Regions from separate parts of the Homo sapiens genome. Here all the other regions are linked to region 6. Evidence: fine-mapped expression QTL. A gene starts in region 6. Each other region holds a variant in brackets. All regions are shown on one strand. Distances are between the middles of the regions.

Region 1 (5,106 bases), 280 kb before region 6:
GGACTTTGAAAAGCATAACTTGTGGCAAAGAGGGTTTAGTGGATCTTGCAAGAGGTGACACACATTATCATGCCCAAGAGGACCCTTGTGGAGTTCATGAGACGTGACAAGGTACTTTAGAAGGTGTGGGCTGGGAGAGGAGGTTACCTTAACGGGACAAAGGTCTCTAAGGAAGAAGACATACAGGCAGAGATTGCCTTCAAAATTAAGGAACTGCAAAGTCAGGGAAATAGACCTTCAGACAGCTTACAAGTAGCTTAACTTGTAAGCTTAACTTAATATTTAGAGTAAAAACTCCTGCTGTAATCCCAGCACTTTGGGAGGCTGAGGCGGGTGGATCACAAGGTCAGTAGATGGAGACCATCCTGGCCAACATGGCGAAATCCCGTCTCTACCAAAAATACAAAAATTAGCTAGCCCTGGTGGCATGTACCTGTAGTCTCAGCTACTCGGGAGGCTGAGGCAGGAGAATGGCTTGAACCCAGGAGGCGGAGGTTGCAGTGAGCCGAGATCGCGCCACTGCACTCCAGCCTGGGCAACAGAGTGAGATTCCATCTAAAACAAACAAACAAACAAAAACTCCTGGACCTGTTGACCCTCTTTCCTCATGAGAGTGATGGAGACAGCAGCTGTCTCAGCACCAGTTGTCACCCAGCACAGTAACAATGCAAGGGGAAAAAAATAGGGCCTGTGGGCCTGACCTTGACCAATTCATCTCACTTTTCCATCTTCAAAATGGAATTAAAAACTATCCAAGGACCCCAAAGAGTAGTTGTCAGGCTAAAATAAAATTACCTGGCCCATCCCAGCACTTTGGGAGGCCAAGGTGGGCAGATCACTTGAGGTCAGGAGTTCGAGACCAGCCTGGCCAACATGGTGAATATTAGAAATACAAAAATTTGCCGGATGTTGTGGTGCGCACCTGTTGTCTCAGCTACTTGGGAGGCCAAGCCAACAGAATCGCTTAAACACAGGAGGCGGAGGTTGCAGTGAGCCGAAATCGCACCATTGCATTCCAGCCTGGGCAACACAGCAAGACTCATCTAAAACAAAAACAAAAACAAAAACAAAAACAAAAACAAAATACCTGGCCCCACAGAGGGCATTCAATCACAAATTACAATAATAAAAAGCCTAGTAGACCATCTTGCAGACACCCTGATCTCTGATTTTCTTCCTCTCATTTATGTACCTTTAAGACTGATATATTTTAAAAATTGTTTCTAATATTGATTCTCAAATACTTTTCTCAAGACAATTACTGTACTAAAAATCGATGACCAGGTGCCAAATCTTCCCTTTCTGAGCATAACTGATAATCCTCCATAGACACTGCTCTCATGATCTCCACCCCCTAGTCATTCCCCATAGCTCCCTATTTTTCTAATGCAGAGCCCTCTGGAGCAGATCAGATGGTAAGGTGGAAAAACACAGGCTTCCCACTCCTGGGAAGACACATTCCACTCTGGCCAGAAGCCTAGCACTCTGGCTTCTTCTGCCCTAGTCTCTGAGTCCAAAGGCCAGGCTTGAATGTTCTGCAGCTGGCCGGTCACTGCCCCCACCTCCTTTCACATCCACAGCCCCACATTTCCTTTGCAAAGGAGAATGAAAGTTATAAAAAGATGATGCATAGAAATTGCAAAAAGATTTTATTTTTCTTGGAATGCCTTGGTCTTAAATCCAGTTTGGGTTCCAAAACTTGTCTAGAATAACCTATTTCAAGGATAATGTCCATGAAAAAGTAGTAGAAAATGACTATTCTAGTACCAACAACTAAAGAAAGCAGGAGGACATAATAGAACAACAACAAAAACACCAACTCTGTTTTAGAATTCTGTACTTCGAGAAAGAGCAAGTTAATTTAAGAGTAAAAACAAGACAGCAGACATTTCTGGCAACTCTCAAAGGGACTCTCACAACTGGATGAATGACAGGAGCTCTTTATTGGATATAATTTCACTTCAAAACATTTTCCATCGGCTGGGCGCGGTGGCTCACACCTGTAATCCCAGCACTTTGGGAGGCCGAGGCAGACGGATCACTTGAGGTCAGGAGTTTGAGACCAGCCTGGCAAACATGGTGAAACCCTGTCTCTACCCAAAATACAAAAATTACGTGGGCGTGGTGGCACATGCCTGTAATCCCTGCTACTAGGGAGGCTGAGGCAGCAGAATCGCTTGAACCCAGGGGGCGGAGGTT[G/A]CAGTGAGCCGAGATTGCACCACTGCACTCCAGCAGGGCAACAGAGTAAGACTCCATCTCAAAAAAAAAAAAAAAAAAAACCAAAAAACTTTCCATCAGTATACAATAAGCATACTCATTTTACTTCCCAGTATTGATACAGGTTGCTGTTCAGCTCAGAAAAGGAAGAAAGAGAAGAAAAAAAGGGAGAGAGACAGGGGAGGGAGGACAGATCTTTTCAGATGTTCTGGGCCAGGATCTAAAGAGAATGGGAAGGAAGGAGGGAGAGAGGATATGTGTCCACCAGTGGAAGTGGCTACAGTGTCGTGGCATTGAAGGAGTTGAGTAAGAAACAGTGAGGTGTGGATCCACGCAGGCAGGGAGGAAAAGATGGTAGAAACAGCGCTTTGGTTCCCTTTACCAATTATTCATTATTTGCGTTCCTCCCCCAGCCTCCAGGTGGCACAACTGACCCAGCATATCCTGCTTGAGAACGGAAAGGTAGGACAAAGGCCAGGGCAAGTCTTAGGAATAAAATGAAGAAACAGAAGGCACTGTTGCCAGGCAGGATTGGGAATGGGAGGGAATGTTGCCTTGTAGCACCCTCAATGGTGGGTACTCAGTACATGCTTAGAAACTTTTCCACTGCATCCCTGATATTATTGTTTGAGAGTCTGACACTCTCAAAACTCTAATGGAAATCTTTCATGCTTCAGTTTAAGCTCTTTTTCTCTTTTCAAGTCCCAATAAAAATATTCCCATTTGCATAGCACACTGCAATTTGTATCAACTCCTTTAAGATCTACTTCCTAGAGATTTGCATACATCTGAGGCTACGAAACATATCTACAGGATGTGAATTCTACATCTAGACAATTAGACCAGGGTTTTTCAACATTGGCACCATTGATATTTTGTGCAGGATAATTCTTTGTTGGTGGAAGGGGGTGTCCTGTGTGTTATAGAGCGTTTAGCTGCATCCCTGGTCTCTACCCATCAGATTCTAGTAGCACCCTTCCTCCCTCACTGAGATAGACCAATGTTTCGGGTCCAGTCCATGGATTCAAGTCCTGAGTCTTGGCCAGGATGCATAGTTGTAATTGTCAGACTTTCCTCCTCTAAGCAGAGCTTCCTCACACAGTAACATGCTCAGGACTCATTAGGGATTTTGCTAAAATGCAGATTCTGATTAAGTAGGTCTGGGATGGGGCTCAGGATACTCTAGTTTTAACACGCTCCTGGATGACAGGAATGCTGCAGGTCCCCAGACCACACTTGGAGTAGCAAGCCCCTACAGCACTGGTTTAGTAAGAAAAGGAGAGGGCTGGGCGTGGTGGCTCACACCTGTAATCCCAGCACTTTGGGAGGCCGAGGCAGGCGGATCATGAGGTCAGGAGATGGAGACCACCCTGGCTAACACAGTGAAACCCCGTCTCTACTAAAAATACAAGAAATTAGCCGGGCGTGGTGGCACGCGCCTGTAGACACAGCTACTCAGGAAGTTGAGGCAGGAAAATCGCTTGAACCGGGGAGGCAGAGGTTGCAGTGAGCTGAGATGGCGCCACTGCACTCCAGCATGGCAGAGCGAGTCTCTGTTGCAAAAAAAAAAACAAAAAAACAAAAAAAAAAAAAACAGAGAAGGAGCTGGGTAGGAAAACTGACCTGACATTATGTAGCTGTGGGACCCCTGGATGGTTATGTGACTTCCAAATGTCTCAGTATCTCCATTTGAAAAATGCTGGTGACTATAAAGATTAAGTAAAATAGTGTAGGTAGGAGTTCAAGGTTGCAGTAAGCTATGATCACACCACTGCACTCCATCTGGGTGACACGGAGAGACCCTGTCTCTAAAAAAGTGGAGGTAAAGCAACCAACTTACCAGCCGACACTCAAGAAATATTAATTCCCTCCCACTTAGCTCCTCCTACCATCCTGCCTGGGAACCGCAAGGACAAGGCGTCCCTGGGAATTACAGGGAATTCCCTAGAAGGTAAAACTTAGTTCCTCTATGAATGGTGAGTGGAAAGGGAACGATCTCTTCTCTTTTCATTCCTCTATCTCAACACCCTCTACGCCACTCACACTATAACACCTGTCATCCTTTGGAGGCTATAGATGGTTTTGATAATGAAACATACCATAAAAATAATACTTAAAATGATATACACATTGTGATTCCATTCAAAAGCAATGCCTCCCACTCTTGAGTCCATCTCTGCCCTGCATTTAACACTGATCTGAACTATTCTTTGAAGGAAAAATGATTCCAAACAGGAATCATCAAGTGCTTTGGATATGATCTAAGTTTCCAAATACAGTCTGTTCATTTTTTCCCCCAAAATGAATAAATTCTGCTCATCTGTAATGTGTCTGAGGAAAATTCTTGCTAACCTTTGCAAGTATAAAATGTTCTGATGCAAAATACTAATAGGCCAAGCTAAAATATGGCTTTAGAATCACACAGCACATGGCACATGGACTCCACCTTGATTTTAATTCACGCACACAGAGTGCCTTTCAATTAGGGTTGAAAAGTACTTGAATTTTCTGGAATATTAACTAAGATTTATTCCTTTGGGAAAGTCATTCCTCCAACCCACCCAAATAAAAATGGCTAAACAATGATGTCTTTCTCCATTTGTAGGCGGTATCAAAAAACTTATGGGAGGCACCACTCCAGACAAAGTAAGATGCTATATTATCCCACCATGGGAATGACATCACGGTAATGTAAGCTGACGCAGTCAGCTGCACTGGGAGGCGGGCTGAAAACGGTCAGTTAACCACTGCCAGGAAAATGTGGTTTGGCCTTCCTCACACCTTCTACACACACCTCACCAGGTGGGAGCTCAGGAGGACTCTGGATGAGCTATGCATTAAGGCTGAAGTCAGGCAACTGTTGGGCGGGAAGAGGGGCAAATGAGGGTC
Region 2 (5,106 bases), 270 kb before region 6:
AAACTTTCAGAAATAAAGCCAGTGGATTCATTCTCCCTTCATTTGACAACGAAGTTAAGACAACCTACTTCACTTTATTAGCCAGAGGTCCTGAGGCTACTGAGTCAGAATAAGCCACTTATGAAAGTGAAATAACTTCAGACTCTGCAGGCAGGAAGTGGTGCCAACTGTCATGCCAGAACTATGAGATAATGAGTATTTCAAAATGTTTGTCCCATCTCAAAGCCCAGCTATTCCTCTCATCCTAGCATCTCAGCATCCCAGAAAGAAAGTGAAATGAACTCTCCAGCAGAGTTGGTTAAGTAAAGACTGGGAGACAGGCAGCCTTACTTTTGTTGTCCCTGGCTCAGGACTAATTTTGTTGGTGCTGTCCAAGATAATTGCAGGAAACTTGGTGTGCCTCCACTCAAAGGAGAAGATGCCCTTTAAGGAAAGGGCCAGGCCGGGTGTGGTGGCTCATGCCTGTAATCCCAGCACTTTGGGAGGCCGAGGCAGGTGAATCACCTAAGGTCAGGAGTTCAAGACCAGCCTGGCCAACATGGCAAAACCCCATCTCTACTAAAAATATAAAAATTAGCCGGGTGTGGTGGTGGGTGCCTGTAATCCCAGGTATTCGGGAGGCTGATGCAGGAGAATTGCTTGAACCCATGAGGTAGAGGTTGTAGTGAGCCAAGATCATGCCATTGCACTCCAGCCTGGGCAACAAGAGCAAAACTTCGAAAGAAAAGAAAAGAAAAAAAAAGAAAAGAAAAGAAAAACAGAGAAAGGGCCAAGGGTCAAAACTGGGGAGGAGACAACCGGCAGCGGAGCATTGCTTAAAACACTCTTTAGGCCAAGTCTTTATGTTTAAAGAAACAGAGTAAAACTCCTTGCTGGATACTCCTCATTTCTAGACATATTATTATGAAATTGTATTCATGAATGTTGGGGAAGCTGCCAGACTGGAAGAAAGGGAAGCTTAGTTAAATTTAAATTAAGAACATTTCCAGAAAGAAAAGTGTGATGCTTAAATGAACTCTAATCAGAACAAAAGACAAGGAAGCAAATTCCCTGGGATCCCAATGGTGAGAGGAGTTTGTATTCATGCAGTCTCCAGGAGCCTGTGAAACGGGAGTTGGGATAGAAGAGCGCTTCCCGGGAGACATGGGCTTGTTCACAGATTCCAAGATGCAATACAGAGAGAGGTGTATAGACGTATGAGTAGGTGAAGTTTCTTTTCAAAAAGAAATATTATACATTTAGGAAGTCTTCCCAAATCACCTGTGCTGCATTTAAAACTGCTACGGGGAAGGGTAGTGATATGTCAAAGTCTGATCTGACCACGCAGCCTATCAGAGCCAAACCCATGCTACCCCACACGGGAAACGGGCTTTCCTGGGTCTGGAAAGGGAATCCACCATCTCTCTAAACGAGTCACCTCCCAGACGCCCTCTTTGTGGGTCAGGAGGGATCCCTCAGGCTGGCGAGCGCCTGGCATCCGCGTTGGAGAGCTCGGCAGCCCGGCTGCACGCCGCCTCGCCCTTTGCCTTCAGTCCTCACCCGGCCACCAGCGCCACAGCTCCCTGCTGCGGGCTTCCGGCTCTCCCGGGCTCCGTTTTACTCCCCTCCTATCCACTCCGTTTCTCTGGGATTTCTTGGGGCCACCAGTGTCTCCTTGCTCTGGTTCTTGCAGGCGCGTCGCCTCCACGGACATTACAGGTACGGCTTGCCCAGTGCTCTCCCCCACGGTCTGCTCTTCCCATACCCCAGAGTGTCCCCAAGAAGGGCCCACAGAGACGCAAACTCCGGCTTTATCTCGGATAAGATACCACATTCTAACTGCTGAGGTCCCAGCCTCAGGCCAAACTTCTGGCTCAGCTCGGACCCGGACCGCGTTCTCCCTCCCAGGGCAGAAGAGGCTGCTGGCTCCTCCTGCATCATCTCCTGAGTTCAGCTCCCTGGACCCTATCCCGAAAGACTCTGGCTGGGGCCGGGACCGGGGCCGGGGCCCGGCCCTCCCTGACTTCAGTCTCTCTGAAAAGTTCAGGACTTGCGAAAATGCCCCCGGCTCTGCCACCCAAAAGGCAGGACCCGCGCCTTCCTCGCGAGCTAGAAGGAACGGCTGCACCTCCCGGTGCTCCCGGGGCAGGAGATGCGGCCACGACCACATTTGATTTCACTGCTTTTCCTGAAAAGGACACACAGCCCAGCTCTGTGTGTATACAGGGAGAAGCGGAGTCCTGCGTTTAGTTTTTAAAGCATATATAAATGATAAGCATTGAACAAAGCAGCCAAAGGCTTGGCCCTCCCACAAACCTAGGAATTCAAATCCACATGGCCACAGCCCCTCCACCCGGGCCCTCTCCCAGCACACGCTCCGCTCGACAAGGACCACAAAAAGCCCTTTAAAAGCCCGCGGTGCTTCCGAGGACTCCCAGATTTCCAGCCCTTCCTCGGCAACCCCTTCCTCGGCCACCCCTTCCTCACACTCGAGGACACTCCAGCCCCTCCCCTCCCCAGCTTGGACACCCACCTCTGGGCGCCCGCTCCCGGGGGCGCAGTCCTGGGGTTCTGCTCCAGTCCAGCGCCGCGCGGCCGCTGCCTCCCGCTCCGGGGGTCCAGGAGACTCCGGGGG[TCCAGGAGACTCCGGGGGA/A]AGGCGAGCGGCAGCCCCGGGCTGGGGCCAGCGCATCTGCAGGGAGTGGTAGCCTCCGGGCGCGCTGGAGGGCGGGGAGCCCCGCCCGCCTGCTCCTGGGGCCCGCCCCTTCCCCGCCTCCTCGCTTCCCCTCCAGTAGCCCAGCGCCCACGGACCGCCCCTCCCTCCCCTCCCCTCCCCATCTACCCACACCTTCTCCTCTCAGTGGCTTCGGCGGAATCGATGCACAAACGAAGAAATGAATGAATGCAGAGACTGGAGAGAGGGAAAGACGGAGGGATGGATGGGGCGGGCAAAGCTGAGTGTTTCCTAACTCAGGGGAGCGCTGTGTCTGGGTATATGGATACTTGTTAGCGCACGGGGCTTTGGAGCGGGGTGGCGTGTCGCTGTGTGTGCATGTGGACGTGTGTGTTGGTGTACACATATGTGCGCATGAGCGTATGTGGAAGTGTGTGAGTGCCTGTGTGCGCTCAAATGCCAGGAGCCGCTGAGTTCCCACTCAGGCGGGGAAACAGCCCCTCGTCCCTTACCTAGCACCACGACTGTCCTCAGGGTCAGAGCGACTCCCGGAACTGGTTGCGAAGTGCGTCTTTGTGGCAGTAATGGTGTCTCCGCGTGTTTGAGGACTCCCCCGATGGGGTTCAGAGGCTGAGGTGTGGACAGAGATGCTTCCAGCTCACTGGCTCGCCAGAGCCTTCCTGCTGCCCTCCGTGTAGTGGCAGCCGGTGGCCCGGTGTCAGAGCGCGTGTGCTAACAAAGCCAGCGGAGGGGAAGGAGGCAGCTGATCCGCAGACTGGGGCTGTATTAGGCGGGTGGCCAGCCATCCCTCACTCTTGAGATGTCTGAAATTTCAGTCTCTCATCCCCTCCTCCACCATGAATATTTAAATAATGTTAATGACCCTTTGAAAATGAACCGTCTAGAAATCCTGAGAGAGGACAGGCACACACAAACAAACACCCCACCTAGAGAGCAACACTTTCAAAAGCAAGCTGTGGTCTTACTCTGCTGTAGGTGGCCGCATTCATTCTCAGCAGAGGAAGATCACAAAAGTCAGATTTCTTGAATTCAGCTTTGCCCTAGGCACGATTTTCCCAGTAATTCTCTCTCCCCAGCTTTGCAAGTCGCCCTTGCACTCTCAGTTAGGTTTCCACCCTAGGGCAGTCTGCTATTTTCCCCACTCCTTGACAAGGCCCTGGGATGCTCTTCTGGGAGTCAATTTTACATGTGAAACACAGCAGGGAAAGACAATAGCCATGGCCTGATTCTACTTTCCTAACCCACAAAGGTCCCTGATTTCCAATACAAAGAAATGATACCCTTGGGAACTACCCAGAAAGCCCATCCAGGCCAAGGGCACCATAAATAGCACCTTCAGAGAAAAGACTTCTTCCCTGCCTTGAGCGCTATTCACACTTTCACCCAAGGAAGAGGATGAAGTCTACAATGGGACATCAGCTGTTCTCAGGGTTCCTGAATGTCAATAGCCTCCTTTATCTTGGTATTTGGAAATGGTTTCACGATCCTTTTTGCCTGTTTGTCTCTTATACTATTGAATTTCAATAGAATTTACTGACCAGTGGTTAGAGATGCCAGAGCTTCAGCCTTGACTCAACTTTTTCTTCCTTCCTTCCTTTTCCTTCTTTTCTTTCTTCCTTTTCATTTTTTTCTCCTCATGTCTCCGATTTAAGGAATTAAATGCTTGGATGCCCTACATACTGATCTATTTTTAACATTTTAATATCATGTGAAAAACTCACATTAAAATGAGTGTGCTTGGATATCACTTATTTATTTATATGGACCATAGACTCTCTAAGGAAGAATTTTAGAATTACATCAGATGTGAGATGTTATAAACAATATCATGGCAGGTACTTCATCACTCCCTTCTCATATTTTCCTAAATTAGAATAAGTGTAAAATTTACAAACAAAATTAGTTTCATTATTAGAAACAGTAAAGCAAGGCCGGGTGAAGTGGCTCACGCCTGTAATCCCAGCACTTTGGGAGGCCGAGGTGGGCGGATCATCTGAGGTCGGGAGTTTGAGACCAGCCTGACCAACATAGAGAAACCTCGTCTCTACTAAAAATACAAAATTAGCCAAGCGTGGTGGCGCATGCCTTCAATCCCAGCTACTCAGGAGGGTGAGACAGGAGAATTGTTTGAACGTGGGAGGCAGAGGTTGCAGTGAGCCGAGATCGTGCCATTGCACTCCAGCCTGGGCAACAAGAGCGAAACTCCGTCTCAAAAAAAAAAAAAAAAAAAAAGTAAAGCAATCATACCAACTTTATTCTGAATTGCTTCTTTACTAAAACAACGTCAATGCTTTGTTAATATTAATTTTAAAGTTCTAGAATATTCTTCAGAAAACTATTAGGAATATTAATTTAGGAAAAATATATGCTTAATAGATATTAATTTATAAGAACATTTTCTTCCACCTTCCAAATTATTAAAGAGGTAGCCATGA
Region 3 (5,106 bases), 360 kb before region 6:
TTTGCATGGACCAGTCTGCAATGCCATGCCATGACTATCATTGCTGGGAAGGAAACCAGCATTCAGAAGGGGTTAGTTAGTAGAGGACAACTCCCAAATCAGATGGGTTTAACTAGATACTGAGGGTCAAGCTACTGATTCCAACATAGTCCACACATGGGTCCACTCTGGTTCTATGCCACAAACAGCCTCTCCTTCAGACAAGAGGCAGGCTTTCAAGTAAAAGAGAACAATTCTTTATAATAAACCAAGGCCAAAGCAGAACAACAAAGAAGGAGCTATTGCATCCTCTGGAAAGTGGCAAACTCCATGCAAGCTCAGGGTTCTTCTAGAGGACACTCTTGACACTTTTGTTGCATGTCCCTGTATGCTGGAATTCTCATGCCAGTGTCCCCCCAACACTTATTCCAGACACACACAGAGGAGGCTCCACATAGAAACCCATGAGCTGGAATCAACAACAACAGACTGCTGTGGCATCTGTCTCTCATGTGAGGCACCTCACTTACCTGGAGCAGTTTTGTAGCATGTTCTGGAGGGCAGTGATGGGGCATTCTTTGTCCTGGGGCTCTGCGTACTCTGCAAGACTTGTCTCTGCCTCTTCAGCTCCTCTTCCCTTTCCTGAGCTGCTCGGATCTCTTCCTCAATCATGGACAAAGTCCGCTGTTTCCTGGACCTCAGCTTGAAAGGCCCAACCATCACGTCAGATTCTTGAGTGGCCAGGAGGGAGGCTGTGCTTCTCAGCTCAGCTGCCTCCGAGTACTTGCTGAAATAGCTTCCTTCGGGCCTGGTCTCCTCCATGTTAATCGGGCCACTGGGCTGCACAGCTGGCAGTGGCTGGGGGGGCCCCCTTTCCCTGAGCGCCCTGTCTTCAGCAGGCAGAATCTTTGGTAATACATCCCTTTTCTCTTGAACAGGAGAAGACACCTGAGGTGGCTCAAACATGCTCTGAGGCTTTTCTGAGCCGAAAGCCGCAGCTTCAGCTTCCTCTACAGTCGCTTCAGGTCCCTGTTGCTCTGCTCCATCCCTGCTGGTTTTGGACACAGCTTTATCCACCTGCTCGGCTATGGCTTGTTGAATGGCATTCTGCACCAGGAGGCCAGCCTGATACTCCAAGGGGTCATCAACCAACGGAGAGTCCCCCAGCGTGGAGGAAGGGGAATAGAAACCATGATCACTAAATGACTTGGAGACGCCTTCTCCTCGGCCCTCTGAGGGGTTGTCAGTTTGTGGTGTCTGGGGCAGAGAAAAATCAGCCAGTGAATTTTCCTGGAGGGCATTGGTTGTCTCATTGGATGCCCCGCTGTCACTGATGTTGTCCATGCTGAAATCATTGGATAGGGTCTCCAGGACTGTGGTATCCTGAGACCTCACCGACAATTCGTCCAGACCAGAGTCAAGCTCCTCTTGGGTCAAGGAGACATTGACAGATCTTGAGAACTGATCCAAAATCCCATGGTCATCATCCTTGACCACAGTGAGGACAGCCCGGGCGCTCGTAAATTCTCCATCCTCAGCCCACAGTTTAGATAAGGGCCCACGTTTAGAAGGCTCGCTGTAGGGCCCTTCCTTCCCCTGAGAGGCTGTGTTGCCCTGGCTTCCTGCTGCCGATGGGGTCTCCAGGGCACCGGGGGATTTCTGTCCCTTGGCGGCTGAGGCACCACTGTCTTCTGGAGGTCCCCCGACAGAAGGTGGTCTCGGATTAGTCAGTGGCTTGTCTGAGTTGACTGACCCCAGAGGCCTGTAGAAAGGCTTGATGGAGAACAGCCTGGGTGTACTCTGGCCCTTGGCCACCGCTTGCCTGGAATTCTCCATCAGCTGAAATTGTTTGCGAGCAGCAGAGAAATCTATCTGCTCTGTGACAATGTCCTCCTTTGCTTTGTCAATCATGCTTGCGCGTTCATGAGAAGAGGCAGGGGCTGTGCAGAGCTGCGATGGGGGCTGCTGCTGCTGCTGCTGTAACTGCTTCTGCAGCAGCAACTGTTCCTGCTGTGCCCTTCTCTCTTTGCGCTCCTTGTACTTTTTGTGCGACTCCAGATGTTCCTCGTCCAGCTGCTCCTCGATGGTTTTTTCCTGCGGGGGATTCCACCATTTTGCTGCAATGCCAGGATTCTTCTTGACGGCCTGGCTGCGGATGAGCTCTCTCCTCTCCTTTTCCAGCTCCAGCATCTCCTCTGAAGGCCTCACTTTTCTAATGCAGTATTGTTCTTTCTCATGCTCGTCATCCTCAAAGAGCTTGGAGGGCTTCTTGTCCTCATGGAAGGCACGCAGCTCAAACTTGGCCTCCTTTTTCAGTGTGGTGAGAGTGAACTCTCCATCTCGGGAAGAACACCGTGAGCTGGTTGTGGAGCTGGGGCTGACAGGCACCTGCAGGCTGTCCCCCAGCGCATCTCTAGGCTGGCTGGGGGAATGGCCATTTGTTCTTTCTGCCTCTGCCATGGGGTCAGGGCTGCTATTACTGAGCTCGATGTGAGGAGGTGCCTGCCGGCTAGCTGTTCTTTCAGTGGGTTCTGGCTGGGTCGCCTCGTGGACAGGGGGGCTTAGGCCGCCCACCAGAACCACTGCACCAGGCTCTGGGGAGGATGTTCCATTGTACGTTCCATCCACAGCAGAATCACAGCAGTTGGCCTCTAGCACCTCATCTAGATAGCGGATCTCTCTGGCAACATCATTATCCAGGGATTCGTGGTGATCAGTAAGGAGGCCATTATGCGGGGGTGAATAGAAAGCGGAGGGATGGTCCATGGGATGTGGGGTAGAGGTGATTCCAGGAACACTTTTACATTCTGCAACAGACACCTCAATTTCCATGTTTTTGTGATCTGGGGAAAGAGAGCTGGCAGCAGGCTCCAGGAGGGTGGCACTATAGTTGTCTCCCTCGCTTTTTAGCCAGATATCATCCTCAGAAAGCTGGGGAGGCTTCTGGAATAAAGAGTAAACAAAAGTCAGGGTTAAATACTGCATCTCTTATGGATGTGAATGCTGACAAACTGACTCATAA[T/C]TAAGAGGAAGGAAAATGGAAACCACAGTGACAAATTCTTTTGAATAGATATTTTCTAATAATCCCTTAAATGTTCATTTTCTTGTAGTAACAGGTGCCCAATCCTCTCTAATTTATGGATTCCATTTTGTTTACATGCTAGTGCCATTTTTAAATTTTATCTACTAAGGTGGAAGAGATTACATCATTATTGTACCAGAGTCTTCCCAAGTATTTTGCGGCAAATGATTGCAGGCTGTGCAATACGACTATTAATAGGATTGCAAAAAGAAGGTCCTTTTGTATGAACAGATCTTTAAAACATATGACTCTCTGCCAGATGTAATGCAGTTATTCTGGAGACAAGAAACTTTTTGGAAAATCTTTGCAGAATAAAATACTGGAAAACAGTAGATCCCTTTAATGGCAGCACACAGGCTACAGTGCCTCACTGCCATGGCTGTAATTGACCATGTGCCTTATGAACACCATCACCAAAGCCACTGACTGCACAGCTCTGTTTTCTGGGATTGCATCAAAATAATACTCTTTAGTTAAGAAGTCAGCACTGCTTTGAAAAACTAATGGCCAATGGTACCTCTCCTCCAGTTTTTTAACTGCTTTATATGTGATATCTTCAGTTTGTGATTCAATAAGAAAACCCTATCTTCTTAATGTTTTAAAACCCATCATATTTTTCTTTTTTTTTTTTTTTTAAGGAAGGAGGTTTTTTGTCTTGAGGGCTTTTTTTTTTTTTTTTTTTTTTTTTGAGATGGGATTTTGCTCTGTGGCCCAGGCTGGAGTGCAGTGTGCCATCTCGGCTCATTGCAACCTCTACCTCCTGGGACTACCGGTGTGTGCCATCACCCCTGGCTGATTTATATATATATATATATTTATATATTTTTTTTTTTTTGTAGAGACAGAGTTCCTCCATGTCTCCCAGGCTGGTCTTGAACTCCTGTACTCAAGTAATCTGCCCGCCTCAGCCTCCCGAAGTGCTGGGATTACAGACATGAGCCACCACACCCAACCCATCCATCTTATTTTTCTACCAGTTATCTAGCCTATGTAATTTTGTTATTTGGCATTAGAAACATTAATTTTCAAATTATAAGATGATTTTCTTTTTCATATCAAAGGACTCTGGCTTATCTCAAAGAATTCCAGTAAAGTATAAACTTAATTTGAGTTACCATCAAGGACCTTACAACACCTAGGTTGGCTTTGTTTCCCTGTCTCAAGTTTATAATGTGCCTGGTATTATTGACATAGGACAATGCAAAATTGCAAGAGAGTGTAATTTTCATTTATCTAAGGTTTCAACAATTTTAAATGCTTAGAATATTAAAACACCACCTTAGGACGATTCTCAGGAAATTAATTTCAAAATCCTTCCCAAAAAAGTGGATAATTATGGATTTGTTCTTGAGACCTAAGAAAACACTGGAGTTCATCGTAAGTGCTCTACACTGCTGTCAGAATGTTGAAAAACTCTCTGAGTTATCCATGAACTGGGGGGTTTCCTTCACTCTTCACTTTCCACATTTCCTTTCAGACTTAAATTATTCAAGTAATGTATATGTCTTCTCCATTAACAGGCACAAATAATGAGTGTTCCTCTTTTGTCAACATCTTCCATTCTCTGATTTTCTTCCAGTCTAGGTCTGGTCTTTGTTAAGGAGTGATACTTAACACAATTAATATTTATAATTGCTAATATCTTTATTTTTTATTTTTGACCATCATTAAATAGTAGTTTTTGCCACCACCTTCCTTTTTTTTTTTAAGAGACAGGCTCTTGCTCTGTTGCCCAGGCTGGAGCACAGTGATGTGATCATAGCTCACTGCAACCTTGAACTCCTGAGCTCATGGGATCCTCCTGCCTCAGTCTCCCTTAGGACTACAGGTGGGCATTACCATGCCTGGCTAATTTTTAAAATTTTTTGTAGAGATAGAGTCTCGCTATGTTGCCCAGGCTGGTCTCAAACTCCTGGACTCAAGCAGTCCAGCCTTGGCCTCCCAGAGTGCTGGGATTACAGGCATGAGCCACCCTGCATGGCCAGCCCTTTTAAAACTATTAACTAAACTTTTTGTTGGATGAGACATTGTCAGTAACTTCTACT
Region 4 (5,106 bases), 300 kb before region 6:
CTTTCTTTTTTTTTTTTTTTGAGACTGAGTCTCACTCTGTCACCCAGGCTGGAGTGCAGTAGCGCGATCTCGGCTCACTGAAACCTCTGCCTCCTGGGTTCAAGCGATTCTCCTGTCTCAGCCTCCTGAGTAGCTAGGATTACAGGCGTACACCACCACGCCCAGCTAATTTTTGTATTTTTAGTAGAGACAGCGTTTCACCATGTTGGTCAGGCTGGTCTCGAACTCCTGACCTCGTGATCCGACCACCTCGGCCTCCCAAAGTGCTGGGATTACAGGCGTGAGCCACTGCACTCGGCTAAGACCTACAATATTTTCTGTCTGGCCCTTTGCAGAAAACATTTGCTAATGCCTATTCTAAATCAAGATGTATCTGTAGGAGAACCACTGGGTTTATTCAAAATTTGCCCAAACAGCATTGGACTTCCAGGTAACGAGTTATGGAACAGTCACTGGATATCCTGAAGAGAGAGCCCTGACCCGCTGACCCATGAGTCAGAGACGTGAGATTAATGCCCAGCCTCACCGTTTACCTGACACATGGCTTTGTTAGTTCATATAACCCGCTTTCTGTCTAAGGTTTCTCATCTGTCAAATGGGAGAACTTGCCCACGTCACAAGATGTTAAAGTGTTTTGCTCACTGTCAATGTACAACCTCGAAATGAATGTACTATTATAGTAATTATGAAAGCTATCACTGAATGTGTACTTGCAATGTGCCAAGTAACATGCTAAAGGCTTCCTATTTGTTATTGTATTTCATCCACATCTAATAGGGTATCGCCCTATTAGAGGAGTACGACTACAGTCTTCCTTTTACAGATAAAGGAACCAAGGCTCAGAGAGGTTAAGGGATTTGCTTGTTGTCACACAGCAAGTAGTTAAGCTGAGAATCACACCCAGGATTGTCAGGCTCCAGAGCTTATGCTATGAGCTATGGAGAACATTGATTCCAAAACTCTGACTCACTGAGTGGTATCCACCAAATCTATCCACTTCACTGAATAAAAGGCCTACTGGAATTGTTTGAGACAAACGCCGGTCCTGGGCCTACCACAGGGGTGGTATACATTGCGTGACAGCCTCCTTCATGTGCTACAGGTTATGAATTGCCCACGAAATAAACATTAAAGCTCTATCCATACAGGCAAGTGAAAGGGAGCCCCAAGCAGTGATACTGTAATGTTACCTTGACAGATGCCAGGATCAATTTCAAATGAATAAGTAACCCATAAAAAGTGGCTCAACACACAAAACTCGGAGGTGGCCTTGTCTAGCTGGTCTTCCATATGCATCTAAACATCATGTGTGCATGATTTGGGACCCTATATTTTTACTTAATAAAGCACATCTGACCAAAATATTACAGATAACTGAAAAATAATAACATAGGATATATTCTGTAAGTTTTTATTTTATACTCCTGTGTTTCAAAAATGAAGTTTCATTTGGCAACTAGTGAGATTTTATTCTTGCCAGTTTCATCCTTTTGAAAAGCATCCTTTTGGAGGTATATATACCTATATATATATATATATATGTAGAATATATATGATATACCTATATATCCTCAGGAGCCTATATACCTATGCTAGTTTACCCAGTATTTTATTTCCAGGATTCTATCAGAGAGAAAATAACCAGGGATGTTTATAAAACATAAATACAAGGATGTTCACTGCAGCCTTATTTATGAAGATAAACACTAGAAACCATCAAATCACCAACATAAAGCATTTATCTAGGTAAAATTCGGTGGAATATTTTATAGCTATTAAGGACCACGTGTAGAAACCAGACTAATTCACATGGAAGGAAAAATATTCTTTACAAATGTCAATGTCATGAAAGACAAAGAAAAAGGACTGATGAGCTTTATCAGATTAGAGGGTGATAAAGAGACAATATCAAAATACAAAGTGTGATCCAGGATTGGATCCTGGTGTTGGGGTAAAAAAATGCTAGAGGTCACTTTGCAAAAACTGGCAAATTTTGAAAAACCAAGTTTATATTAGGTAATAGTATTGTATCAATGTCAAATTTCCTGAATTTTTTTAACACTTTTGAGACTATATAAAGTAATATAAAGGGGCATGATATCTGCAACTTATTTTTAGAAGGTTCAGAAAAAAATATTAAAAATTATGCATCTGTATATAATATAGACATATATAAATTATATAACATGTCAAATATGAGAAATGTTAACAATTAGTGAAGAGAAAACAAAAATTCTTTGTACTACTCTTGCAACTCTTTTCTAAGTTTAAAATTATTTTAAAATAAAAAGGTAAAATATCTGAAATTTTGCTACATGGGAAAATGCTTATGCTAAAGTGAGTAAAAACATTAGGATCCAAAAGTCCATTGTAGAATAATGTTACAAGCATAGGGGCAGCTTTTACAGGAGCGACTATAGAGGTTAAAAAAAAAGAAAGAAAGAAAAAAAGAGAATGAGGGCAGTTTAAAATATACATATTAGGAGGAAATAAGTCTAAATGTTACCAGTGGCACGTCATTTCTGAGTGGTAAGATTTGGATTGAGTTTTCTTTTCTTCTTTT[T/C]ATAGTTTTTTATGTCTACATTTCTATAATAAGCATGCATTATTTTTATAATTAGGAAAAATGAAATATTAGAGGGAAATTATATGTTTTTATGAATTACATAAACATCTGATTCAGTTTTCAAACAATTTTATGTACTAGCTTGATAGTGGAATTTGAAGATAAGGCATCTAAACCCTAGATAAAATCCTGTTTACAGCAGCAATACCAAATTGGTAAATTTTACAACAAATTAGAAATTATTTTCCATTCAAGCCTTAGAAGAGTAGGGATGAACTACAGGTAAAAGAGTAGGGGTGAACTACAGGTCTGGTGCATGAAACAGCTGGCACACCGACATTCGGCCAGAATTTTTTCAAGATTGTCAATTGACAACAAAAATAAATTGTGCCCGCATTCAAGACACATTCTTCTAATTCATCTCTTACAGTGACTTTTTTTTTTCTTTTTCTTTTTCTTTTTTTTCTTGAGATGGAGTCTCACTCTGTCGCTCAGGCTGGAGTGCAGTGGCACAATCTTGGCTCACTGCAACATCTGCCTCCTGGGTTCAAGAGATTCTCCTGTCTCAGCCTCCCAAGTAGCTGGGATTACAGGCACACGCCACCACACCCAGCTAGTTTTTGTATTTCTAGTAGAGACGGGGTTTCACCATGTTGGCCAGGCTGGTCTCGAACTCTTGACCTCAGGTGATCCACCTGCCTCAGCCTCCCAATGTGCTGGGATTACGGGCGTGAACCACCACACCCAGCCTATGGTGACTTTTTAAAAGCTCATTTCTGGTTCTAAAAATTAGAATGCTACATGGTATGTGTATGTGCGTGTGTGTGTTTATAATTTTTTTGTGAACTATTGGAGTCTTTTTGCAGACATAATGCCTCGTTATTCCTAATACTTCAAGGTACATTTTTGAAAAACAAGGACTTTTTCCACCTAACCACAGTCCAGCCTCAAAATCTTGTAATTAACATTGATGGAATTCTACATGTAAACCATAGACCTCATGCAAATTTCAATCTTGGTCCCAATGATGTTCTTACTAATAAAATGATCCAATCTAGGCTCCCATGTCTCATGTCTCTAGTCTCCTTCAATTTGGGGTACTTTCTTAGTCTTTCCTTGTCTTTCATGACTTTTACTTACTTATTTATTTGAGATGGGCTCTCACCATATTGCCTAGACTGGCCTCAAACTCCTGGCCTCAAGGGATCCTCCCGCTTCAGCTTCCCAAGTAGCTAGGATTATAGGTGTGAGCTATCATGCCCAGCTAATTTGGGACTTCTAAAGATTATAGACAAGTTATTTTGTTGAACATCCCGCAATTTGAGGTTACCTGATATTTCCTCATGATTAGATCTAACTCATGCATTTGTGCAGGAATATCACAGAAGCGATGCTGTGTTTTCCTCTGTGCATCTCATCAAATGGTGCACACTGCCAATTTGTCCAATTACTAATGGTGTTAGATTTGATTATTTGATTAGGGTGGTATCTGCCAAGTTTCTCTACTGCCAAGTTACTATATTCCCTTTGCAATTCATGTGTATTTTGTGGGAAGACACATGAAGCTGTGTAAATATCCTGGTGGGACAATATAATCATTAAAAAAGGTATACTAAGTAGCAATCAATATTCAGCCTCCAGAAAAAAACTAACAGCATTTCATAATATGTTTGTTAGTTATATTTAAGAACTATAGTATCCCTGAAACAATTTTTCAGAACTTCCCCAGAGAAAAGACTCTGGGGAGGGAAATCCCATAATGTAGACACTGCAGTTTGCCAAAGGTAAATCTAATGTTTATCTGCAAAAGTCACAGAAGTGGTGACATTTAGATGTGCAACCTTTAATTCCTGGGGAAACTTTGAAAAATAAATATGACTTGCCCTCTAGATATATCCTCAGAGCTGGCTTTCTTGACCTATCTGAACTTTCTTGTTTGTTCTCTTAACAAAAGGCTTTTAACTGAGATAAAACAACAAGCTAGGCTAACCCTGGCTTGAGTCTGGATCACACACAATGTGATCCAAAGAGTGTCAAGTGTCCATGTAAAACACCCTATAAAAGCTGTTTCAGCCATGGCAATTCTCAGCTCAGGTCATGAGGCTCACTTCAAGTGTCCCAGTTGAGAGGGTGTCCAGGAACTCCCAGGAGAGAACAACCTGTAGTCTTTTTACTTAAGCTTCTTATTTCCTAAAAGCTTTGTGTTTGTCTGAAAACACAAGACCAGCAATGACGCATTCTTGCTCAGAACAAAAACTGTCATTAAAATGGACTTGCAGACAGAGGCTTCAGGGCTTCGCACTAAAGACTCATTCTGTGTTTTGGAATCTATGATGATTATTACAAAAGAAATTACAGAATCAATTGTAATTTTCTTTTCTTATACCTGGCAAGCACAATGGTAGAAACCTCTCCTAAGGCAATGCTTAACAGTTTGGGCTTGGTGTTGTGTGAAGTTTCTAAAAATAAATAGTGATGCATGTCTCCTCTCTCTCATTGCCTCAGATTTCCATTTCCTAATTGAATGATTCTCTTTAGAGAAT
Region 5 (5,106 bases), 140 kb before region 6:
AGGAGAAGAGCCAGGCCAATTTTGTAAGAGGAGAAACAGTGAGCCAAGAGATAGTTCCTGAAGAAGAGAGGCAGGGAAGGCTTGGAATGTGGACCTCCTCAGTGGCCTGCAACCAGCGCTGCTACTTCTTCTGATGCCTTTACAAATCAACACAGTACCTCTTCCTTAAGCCCCTGTTAATGAAACCCCCTAAGCTGACCAGGATTAAAACATTCATCTACAGTCGGGGCAGAGAGCACTTACCTCCATCCGTACTGGAGAAACCCTGTAGGAACAAAAACAAGGCAGAGCGTTACTCTACATGTGGGGGTACAATCCCATCTTTTCCCATCTTTAAAGACTTAACCCATCTTTCTCCCATGCCCCAGCCCAGAATTTGACTGTGCTGGGGAAACGCAACGATCTCTTTTCTTCTGGACAATTTATTTAGAATTCCAAAATTATAATTCCCAATTTATACTAAATTTCTCCCAATAGAGATTTATTTCAATGATCTAGCAAATATCCTTGGTCATGCTGGAGAATGATATCAGAAAATCCCATCCTAAATTGATTTCATTAGATTGCTTTTCTGTCACTCATAGGTACAGCAGAAACAGTTATAAAATGGAGGGAGGTCCTGAGATGTTTGTTCAGAGCCTACTGGTTTTACGGACTCTACTCTTTGATACACGGCACCACCTGTTTTTTTGTTTGTTTGTCTTTGTTTTTTGTTTTTGTTTTTTTGAGACGCAGTCTTGCTGTGTCGCCCAGGCTGGAGTGCAGTGGCGTAATCTCAGCTCACTGCAAGCTCCGCCTCCCAGGTTTATGCCATTCTTCTGCCTCAGCCTCCTCAGTAGCTGGGATTACAGGCGCCTGCCACCGCACCTGGCTAATTTTTTTGTATTTTTTAGTACAGACAGGGTTTCACCACGTTAGCCAGGATGGTCTCGATCTCCTGACCTCGTGATCCACCCGCCCCGGCCTCCCAAAGTGCTGGGATTACAGGCACCATCTGTTTCTATATACAGTAAAATGTCATGTATTTACACTCTTTGTATTTGGAATTCTTGTCCACTTCATAAGGTGTTGCTTCTGGCCTTTTTATAATGAAAGACTCAAAAAGCAAACTATAATTAAAGCCACAAAGAGCATGTTTATTCTGCTTCATCAGAATTGGTTTTAGAATTCTAGAGTCCAATAAGAGAAGGCTTTTCAGGCACAAGGCATATCAGGGATCCGGAGAGCAGGCAGATGGGGTAATCTAATGACTCTTCCCTATGCCTTGCAGCAGGCCAGATGGTCCCACACCCAAAGATATGTCATGCTTAGCTTCAGGATGGCCCCTGGTCCTCACACATCTGCCCCTCATTTCATAGAGTTCGTGGCTCAGATTTCTCATCAATGCCCACTGGCCTGTTTCCCAGTTAGCACCATTTTGCTAGGCCCTACTTCCCCATGGAAATAACTTTGAGAAATCGTTTTGGTTTTCTTCACCTTCTGAAAGTCCTTGAAGGATTTTTCTGTTTCCTTCAGTTTCTCTAGGATGATTTGCTCTTTGGCAGATATCTGGGACTCTTCACTTTCTAGCGTTTGTATTTCTTGCTCCAGCCTGGAAAACACACAAACAAAGGACAAGTTACTTTATTGTCCTGCCATCCACGGGCAAGAGAGCAGCTCCTTCCTGTTGGGCGATTTGTACCTTCCTGGCAGCCTTTGTTTTACATTACGCTGAGGAGCCAGGCCAAGGTTTTACATTACACAGCATCTTGTGTTTCCAGCTCTGCCACTGGGCAGACATTGGTCAAGGGAAATCAACACAGCACTGCCTCCACTGGTTCACAGCCACCACTATGCAATATGTTTCGATGTTTCCCTGCCAACACCATGCATGTGCACCTTTCTTATTTGGAGGGAGATTATATTTACATAGCATAGGACATAACATCAGAAGGAAAATAGCTTCATATTCTCCTGACCGGCTCAGAGTAAGTGCTCTCTCAGGTTGGTCAAAAAGTAAAGGGCCATTCTTGCTCAAAGGAAGTATGTTGCCAAGAAATAGCTGGTGGCCAGTACCCTTGGGAGCCTGGTGTCCTCTCCCTCTGTGGTCTGGATTCTACTGCCAAAAAGAAGGGAAATGAAGAAGACAGATGCAACTGCCCCTGCCTTTTGGAACTTTCCTCAATTTTCACAGCCATCCTATGTATTTTATAAAAGGGAAATTTCAGCACTGCCAGGAGACTCTGGAAATATTCCAGAATAGCAGCTGCAGCTATGATTTGGGGAAAGTCTCAACAGCCATATTCTTTCAGTGAAATGATAATAATTACCACCAGT[A/G]TTTACTGAGCACTTATTCTGTGCCAGGAACTGAGCTAAGAATTCATGTGGATTATTTTATCCAAACTTCCCAATGACCCTGTGAGTAGGGAATCCCCATTTTACCGATGAGATCAGTAGGGCTTGGCAAGGTGAAGTAACCTAGTAAAGCAGGCTTTAGTGCCACAGAGCCTTGAAGCAAGGATTCAAGCCAGGTGCTCTGACTCTAGACCCTGTTCCTAACCATTGAGCAACTCTTACCACATGGGATCTAAAGTGTTCTCCACATCCCCCACCTTGTTAAACATTACATATATTGGCAGAGTAGGATGGCACTGATATGCAGCAATGTCTTCAGGAAGAATGAAGGGATAAATGTTCTCTTGCTAAAACTCTAGATTGCTGTGCCTCTTGAATTATTTGATCTGAATTTATTCATTGGTTCATTCATTCAATCACTCATTCATTCATTTTTTCTTTTGGTCTCTTTCCCCTCTGTTGTGCTGGAAGCTTTGCTGCTGAGTCTGTGTCTGCCTATATAAGTCCCCTCCCTTGCCTTCCTCCTTTTCCATCTTTTTTTTTTTTTTTTTTTTTTTTTTTTTTTTTTTTGAGATAGAGTCTCACTCTGTCACCCAGGCTGGAGTGTAGTGGTACGATCATAGCTCACTGCAGCCTCTACCTCTTGGGCTCAAGCAATCCTCCCACCTCAGCTTCCCAAGGAGCTGGGACTAAAGGCACACACCACCATGCCCAGCTAATTTTTAATTTTTTTTTGTAGAGGTGAGGTCTTACTATGTTGCCTGCGTGGGTCTTGAACTCCTGGGCTTAAGCAATCCTCCTGCCTCAGGCTCCCAAAGTGCTGAGACTACAGGCGTGAGCCACCGTGCCTGGCCCTCTTTTTCCATCTTTTAATCTGCTCTCGGGAACTGGCCATTAGACTTAGACCTAAAATAAGGAGTTCAGAGTGGGGTTTTCTGAAAGGTAAGGAACACCAAGATCCAGGCATGAATTTATTTAGCGACATACTGTGCCCCTCAGATGGCCTTTCTGTTTCCTTCCTGGGTGTCAGAAAAGTGACCTCTGGAGGGATAATCTTTGCAGCAATTACTTTGGGTTATGAAGGCAAGCCCTATATCCAAATTAACCTCCTCCAAATGAACACAGCTCTGAAATATTTGTCATTTCACTCAGGGTAAAAGTAGAAGTCCTACAGCTTATAAGTCCCCATGGTATCTAGCCTCCCAGTACCTATCAGCTCCACTCTAACAACATGCCTATTTCACTTCATGCATTAGTCAAATAGAGCCACTCTTATTTGCCCACATGTACCCCATGTCTTTTCCTCCTCTAGGAAACTCAACTCAAACTCCCAACCATTCTTGAAGTCTCAGCTCAGATGCCACCTGTCATGAGGTGTTCACAGATTTCACTGCCAGGAAATAACATCGCTTCCCTCTGAACATTTCTTAGCACATTATTTTGTTTTATCAGAAGTCTTATCAAGTCTACCATATATTAGAGCAGTGGCTCTCAACTGAGGTGATCTTGTCCCTCAGGGGATATTCAGCAATGTCTAGAGATATTTTGGTTGTCCAAAGCTCAAGGGGGTGGGACTGGTGTTACTGGCACATAGTGGGTAGAGGCCAGGGATGCTGGTAAACATCCCACAGTGCACCGGATGGCACCCTACAGCAAAGAATTTTCTGGCCCCAAATAGTAACATACATTATTAATTTCCCCTACTAGATTATAAATTCCTCAGACAGAGGGCACAAATGCTCAATACACCTACATTGAATGAATTTAAAAAGCTGAGCTAAGTTGCGCAAAGGTGTGGCCCAGCCAAGATAAGACTTTCAGAATTTTGGAGACAAGAGTGAATTCTTCAGCAAGCTTTAACTTGAGAGGCTGTGTGTGGGCGAGACGCAAAGAGAATTTATGGAGAGGGGGCTGGCCAATCTAGAGATACGAACATAAAGATGTAAAACTTCTTTGCTGGTCCAGATGTTCAGCAAAATCTTCTACACACATCTGTGTAAATTATTTTGGGGGGAGTAAGTAAAGAGACATGAGTGTGAAATAGGAACAACACACGAGACAGTCACATTATCCAGAAACTGAATTAATTCAATGAGTAGAGGAGCTCTGGACTAGAGGTTCCCTGTGTAGACTGGATGATACTACCAACCAGGTGGGCTCTGAGCAGGTTTTATTTATTTATTTATTTATTTATTTGAGGTGTGATTACAGGCATGAGCCACCACACCTGGCCTGAGCAGATTTGATTTAAATCTCAAAGTACAGAGTACTTTAGCAGATATTTAGGGTGTGCAGTAGATTATATTATTCTTGGGCCGGTTGCGATGACTCATGCCTGTAATCTCAGCACTTTGGGAGGCCGAGGCAGGCGTATACCTGAGGTTAGGAGTTTGGGACTGGCCTGATCAACATGGTGAAAGCCCGTCTCTACTAAAAATACAAAAATTAGCTGGGCATGGTGGTGCACACCTGTAATCCCAACTACTCTAGAGGCTGAGGCAGGAGAACCGCTTGAACCCAGGAGACAGAGGCTGCAAGGCTGCAGCGAGCCCAGATTGCACCACTGCACTTCAGCCTGGGCAACAGAGTGTGACTCCATCTCAAAAAAAAAAAAAAAAGATTACATTATTCTCAAAAATATTCCCTTCCTTCCTCCCTTACTTCCATGGGAAGAGTACATGCTTCCCCAAGCCACTGATGTCAATCTTGACCATGTGATTTGCTCTAGGCTTATGGTAGATGGGTTACACTTCCCAGTCCCTTGGCACTGGC
Region 6 (5,106 bases):
TTTCCAATAGTTTCAATCCAAGATTGACTGAAGGCGTGGATATGGAACCCATGAATAGGGAGGGCAGACTGTATTAGGTGCACATTCATGAGAATAATCAACAGCTCCCCAGATACACAGGACAAACTCAATTCTTCAATAACTGAAGAGGCACAAGTGAGTATTTGTGTGTATTCTTATATGCTCAAGAGAATTCCCAAAGATTTGCCTAGATCTTTCTTGGAAAATCGACTTGGCCTCTGCTGGGATTACTCAACCGCACTTGGAAAAGGGTACCCCAGTGTTAGCAGCTACTGGCTCCATGTTTGGAAAGCAAGTCCTTTCATGGAGTTCAGCTGTTCCTCAGGCATCCAGTAAAGCTGGTTGTGCAAAGGCAGAAAATGTGACAACTGTTGGAAGCCTTCAGCAGCAGCCAATGGGAACAGCCACTGCATCAACAGTTAAAGCAGCCTATTATCCAGTTCACACAAAACACCCACCAGCTACATGGCACCATTAACTCAATATCACCATTCTTATCAAGTTCATGACACACTGGCCATGCTGCCTTGCCACCAACTTTAGAAACCACAAATAACTTCACAAACCATCAAAATACACATGCACAGGGGGAAAGAGAAAGAAGAAAAAAACAACCTTTCTGAGTTCAGAGCACCACGTTCAAAGATTACCTAATAGGCAAACCATGGCATTTCAATATTGCCAGCAAACATCTCTCTCACTTCAGTGGTGAAGTCTCCAAGACATTTCAGATTTGAGGCGTTTGAGAAAGAGGGTCTCAGAGCCTTGGAGACCATGTCAAATGCTTCTAAAAAAGGAAGGGTCTGTGTGCATTTTCCCAATGAAGAATCTGTCCAAAAAGGTTTTGGAAAACGCTTTAATATACTTTGGTTCCAAAACATTACACACTATTTCTCCAACAAATTTATATGTGTTTCCAGAGAACTTCCGAACTGAAAAACACAAATGTATTTAGGTGGAAGAATGTCTGGAGATTCTTTTATGCCAATATGTTAACGGACCTTCTTTTTTAATTGTTACTATTTCATACGGCAGCAGTAATCATTCCCTCATCCTCGAAGGAAATATATAATCCAGCTGTGGTGGCTCCAGTAAAAATACCACATCTGTGGATCATTGGCAACACTGTGTTAAGATTGCTCAAATCTAGGCAGTCTCAGAGAGTTCTTTTTTAAACCCAAGATGCACATGGGTACACTTTTCTGAAAGTGCCTACGAACTTTGCCAAAACTGACTACTCCTTTGTAGGCTGAAAATAGGTTTTCAGATACTCCACACCATAAGAAGGAGGCTCTCATGGAATATTATAACCAGGACCCAGTTGTATGAAGTCCCCAGACCTCCAGGGTGGTGGCTTGTGCCAGTGCCCTTGTCAATATCAAACAGAGAAGGGAAAACTAACATTCCCGGTTTCTGGGAGGAGGTTCTACCGCGTGGCTGGCTGAGTCGCTGACTCCTGGTTTTCCACTTAACAGGAGGACAGCTTCCGCAGAGAGGATGGCAGCCACCGTTCAGGTCACCCTTCTCTTGGTTCTCCAGGCTATGAAGCCAACGTATGCCTGAGCATTCGGTCATAATATTCCTGGAGTCGTCCCCCCACCCCAAGCCTCTGTTTAGTCCTTCCCCAAAGCCCAGCAGCAAGCATCTTTTTTTAAGCCAATCTTCCACATTCAAATCCTCAGTCCAAAGCGCGCCCTTGGGGGTCTCCATCTATAGACATAGAAAAGAAAAGGCAGCCTAGCTGAGCCCTGACAGAGTTTTAGCCCCTGGAACATATGACCTGCGGCTACTGTGCTGGCATGCCGCTTGCCCCGAAACCCTCGGGGGCCCCCTTCCACCCCAGACAATAGAGCAAGAAAATAAAATGAAAGTGGACTTACTGCTATGGCTTGCAGCCTTTCCTTGTGCAATTCCGCCTCTGCCATCCTGGAGAAGGGCACACAGGCAGGGGAAAGAGGAAAGAAAAAACACACGCTGTAGTCACCCAAGGAAACTGATGGGCACCCCGGGGGGCTTTGCTAGAACCCGGGAGAACGCCCAGGGACGGCTGGGGATCCGCTCCAGGGGCGGCGGGCAGAGCTGTGCGCACGGCGGGCTCGCCCGGGCTCAGCCTCTGGCCCCCGCCCTCCCGGCCGCCTGGCTGCGCCCCAGCGCCGCCGCTCACTGCATCTCCCGGTCGCCGCCGCCGCCGGCCGCGCCAGCCGAGGACGTGGGACGCCGGCAGCCGCCGGGAGGGCGCGCTAGCCCGGCGCTAGTTCTCCGCCCTGACGTCTCGGTGCCTCGCTCCGCCCCTGGAGTGTGATGGACCCGAGGCCGCGGTCCAAGGCGGCTCCGAGCGATCGCCGCCGCGGGTCTCCAAGGCGCAGACGGAGGGCGCGCGAGCCAGTGGGCACCTGGGGCGCGGGCGCACGGCGAGCCGCTGGGGCGCACGGCTGGCGTGGCGCGCCCGCGTGGACACGCGCTTGCTGGGGCGGAGGCAGAGCGCAGTGGCGCCTCCACCGGGCAGATGCCAGTGGAGAGGGGCGTCTGACCGAATGTGGGACCCGAGCACGTGCTGTTACGTGGGGGCTGGGGCCACCGAGTGTTCAGGGCACCTTCTGGCTCAAGCCAGACGCTTGAGCTCCACGTGGGGACATTTACAATTTGGGAAGGGCTGCCTTGCCCAAGTGGCCCACATGCTTAAGATGACCAAGTTCTCAATATCAAGTCGGCCGAGGGTAGGGTATATCTCCAGAGAGGCCACCCTTCTGGTGAGGCGATATGTGGCCTTAAAAGAAGCCGAGAGTTTTTAGTCCTGGGTGCTAGACTAGATTTCACAATGTGTTAGCTGTGAAATCTCAGGCAACTCGCTTAATCACTCTGAACCTCAGTTTCCTCATCTGAAAAAATGGAGGATCACATAGGTGTCATTAGAGACGAATGAGAGACAGTATGTAAAGGTGCTTTGTAAAGGGCATCACAGACATCTGCTCTTATTATCCTGTGACATTCTGGATTGAAATCCTTTCAGGGTCTTCTGTTCATTGCATCTGAAAGGAAAAGTAGGATCTACTCACTAAAATATTTCACCTATTCTTTACTAAAACAGGATACCATGTGGTACTAATGTGAGTCTTTTGTGACAGGTCCTGGACTGGATGTAAGAAGTGGATCAGGCCCAGTCCAAAAGGAGATCAATGCCAAAAGCAAAAAAAAATGCCTCTTCACATTGAGGCAGGACCTGCTAGAATTCCCAACATTCATATGCAAACGTTTCTTCATCAAATGAAATAAACACTGAAATAACTAATATGGCCTCTTTAGAGCCATAGGATTTAAAGGCATGTTAAAAGATATACACATCAGGCCAGATGCGGTGGCTCACACCTGTAATCCCAGCACTTTGGGAGGCCAAGGCGGGTGGATCACCTAAGGTCAGGAGTTCGAGACCAGCCTGGCCAACATGGTGAAACCCCTTCTCTACTAAAAATACAAAAAATTAGCCGGGCGTGGTGGCAGGCACCTGTAATCCCAGCTACTTGGGAAGCCGAGGCAGGAGAATCACTGGAACCTGGGAGGCAGAGGTTGCAGTGAGCCGAGATCACATCATTGCACTCCAGCCTGGGCAACAAGAGTGAAACTCTGTCTCAAAAAAAAAAAAAAAAATGCACATCAAATTTTCCCAGATCACCTGTTTCCTGAATAAATGCTTCCATTTCAACTAAATTGCCCTTTCAATTTTCACAGAGGTTCACCTGTCACTGATGAACAATTACTCCTCTGACCAAAGATGGAAGCACTCACCAAAATCGTTTACTGATGGATTGTTTTCCCATCTTTTTCATAACAAGTGTAGGTGGAGCTGATTGTTTAATAAATCCAAGCCAGTGCCAGATTCTACATCCCACTCCAATATATCAGAAACTTCTACTTTCTGGCTAAGCCCATCCTTTTCTTCAAATGCATCCTTTTTTCTTCATTTCCAGCACAAGCCCCAGCAGGACAAGTTATTTAAAGGGGTTTGCTCACAAATAAACAAAGCTGTTATTGCTTCAGCAGAGTGATTGTAGAGAATACTAAGATGAGGAAAATGAGACCAGAGAGGTTGAAAGACTCAGCTACAGTTATAGAGCTGGGATTTAAACTCAGATCACACTCACCAGAGCCCATGCTCTTAACCATTAAGCACCAGGCTTGGCCAATGATATGGAGATAGAAGCAGGCCCCAGGAATAAACAATTGAACCAGAAATGGTCCTTCTACTCCCAGCTATACAGATATTTAAAAGGTATGATTGAGCACAACAGTGTGAATGTACTTACTGTCATCAAACCATATGCTTAAAAGTGGTTGAAATGGTAAATTTTAAGTTTTGTATTTTTAACCGCAATAAATTTTTAAAAGGAGTGATGGAATGGGGAGATGGAGAAGGAAAAGGGCCTGGGCACCCTTTGGAAGTGATCAGTTGGAAATATCTGAACTCTGAATAGAAGAATCGGGGTTGGGGACACACATCCAAGTGTCATCTACTTTGCGGTTACAGCTAAAGAAATGAGAACAGCCAGGATGAGAAAACAGAGCAAGAAGAGGAGAGAGCCCAGCAAAGAAGACTGATAAAGTATCATCCGAGAAGTAGAAGGAAAAATTCAAAGGGATTTGCACCAAAAGCCACAAAGAAGGAAAGAGGTTTTCAACAGGGTCATATGCTTCTGAAAGGTCATGGGGGATGCAGATGAAGAAGAGACCATTGGAGGGCTGTCAGTAAGCCATGAGTGACTTGTGTCCAGAAGATGAGCTTGGAAGCACTTACAAGAGGTGAGGAATGACTGCTACCAAGTGAATGTTGAAAATAAAACAAACAAAAATGGGGATGAGCGAGAGATCAGAGAAGCAACCATGAGTACAAACTGCTTCTTTCAGCTCTTCAGATGTGAAAGATGAAGGTGGAGAACAGGAACATAGCCCATGGGAAGCAGGGTCTAGTGGAAAGGGTTTTTAGGTCAGGCAAGACTTGGATGTTTGGGGGTCAAAGCAAATTAGACAACAGGGAAATTAGGCCAAAGATACAGTCAAAAAGGAAGGTGAATATTAGTCAAAGTCTCTAAT

Evidence for each region. PIP is the estimated chance that this variant, and not a neighbour inherited with it, causes the effect.
Region 1: its variant is the best candidate, but not a certain one, in a credible set for the expression of PALM2AKAP2 in whole blood (INTERVAL, PIP 0.88).
Region 2: its variant is the best candidate, but not a certain one, in a credible set for the expression of PALM2AKAP2 in whole blood (INTERVAL, PIP 0.51).
Region 3: its variant is the best candidate, but not a certain one, in a credible set for the expression of PALM2AKAP2 in whole blood (INTERVAL, PIP 0.66).
Region 4: its variant is the best candidate, but not a certain one, in a credible set for the expression of PALM2AKAP2 in fibroblasts (GTEx, PIP 0.82).
Region 5: its variant is the best candidate, but not a certain one, in a credible set for the expression of PALM2AKAP2 in whole blood (INTERVAL, PIP 0.57).

The regions. Positions count from the first base shown.
Region 1 is chr9:110,056,072-110,061,177 of GRCh38, reverse strand. All of the region lies in intron 7 of PALM2AKAP2 (PALM2 and AKAP2 fusion), which reads right to left. Among named protein-coding and RNA genes, the nearest start is that of C9orf152, 150 kb to the left of the region's middle. The variant G/A (reference allele first, on the strand shown) is at 2,200.
Region 2 is chr9:110,046,262-110,051,367 of GRCh38, reverse strand. All of the region lies in intron 7 of PALM2AKAP2 (PALM2 and AKAP2 fusion), which reads right to left. Among named protein-coding and RNA genes, the nearest start is that of C9orf152, 160 kb to the left of the region's middle. RefSeq lists silencers at 2,014-2,153, 2,244-2,303, 2,434-2,873 and enhancers at 2,579-3,152, 3,726-4,300. The variant TCCAGGAGACTCCGGGGGA/A (reference allele first, on the strand shown) is at 2,615.
Region 3 is chr9:110,133,943-110,139,048 of GRCh38, reverse strand. It overlaps PALM2AKAP2 (PALM2 and AKAP2 fusion), which reads right to left. Exons shown (of 11, transcript NM_007203.5): 8 at 510-2,922. Among named protein-coding and RNA genes, the nearest start is that of C9orf152, 72 kb to the left of the region's middle. The variant T/C (reference allele first, on the strand shown) is at 3,002.
Region 4 is chr9:110,072,928-110,078,033 of GRCh38, reverse strand. The region is part of intron 7 of PALM2AKAP2 (PALM2 and AKAP2 fusion); the gene reads right to left. Among named protein-coding and RNA genes, the nearest start is that of C9orf152, 130 kb to the left of the region's middle. The variant T/C (reference allele first, on the strand shown) is at 2,564.
Region 5 is chr9:109,920,220-109,925,325 of GRCh38, reverse strand. It overlaps PALM2AKAP2 (PALM2 and AKAP2 fusion), which reads right to left. Exons shown (of 11, transcript NM_007203.5): 4 at 1,477-1,591; 5 at 244-265. Among named protein-coding and RNA genes, the nearest start is that of PALM2AKAP2, 140 kb to the right of the region's middle. The variant A/G (reference allele first, on the strand shown) is at 2,317.
Region 6 is chr9:109,777,329-109,782,434 of GRCh38, reverse strand. PALM2AKAP2 (PALM2 and AKAP2 fusion) reads right to left here and starts at 2,237. Exons shown (of 11, transcript NM_007203.5): 1 at 1,902-2,237. The coding sequence starts at 1,946.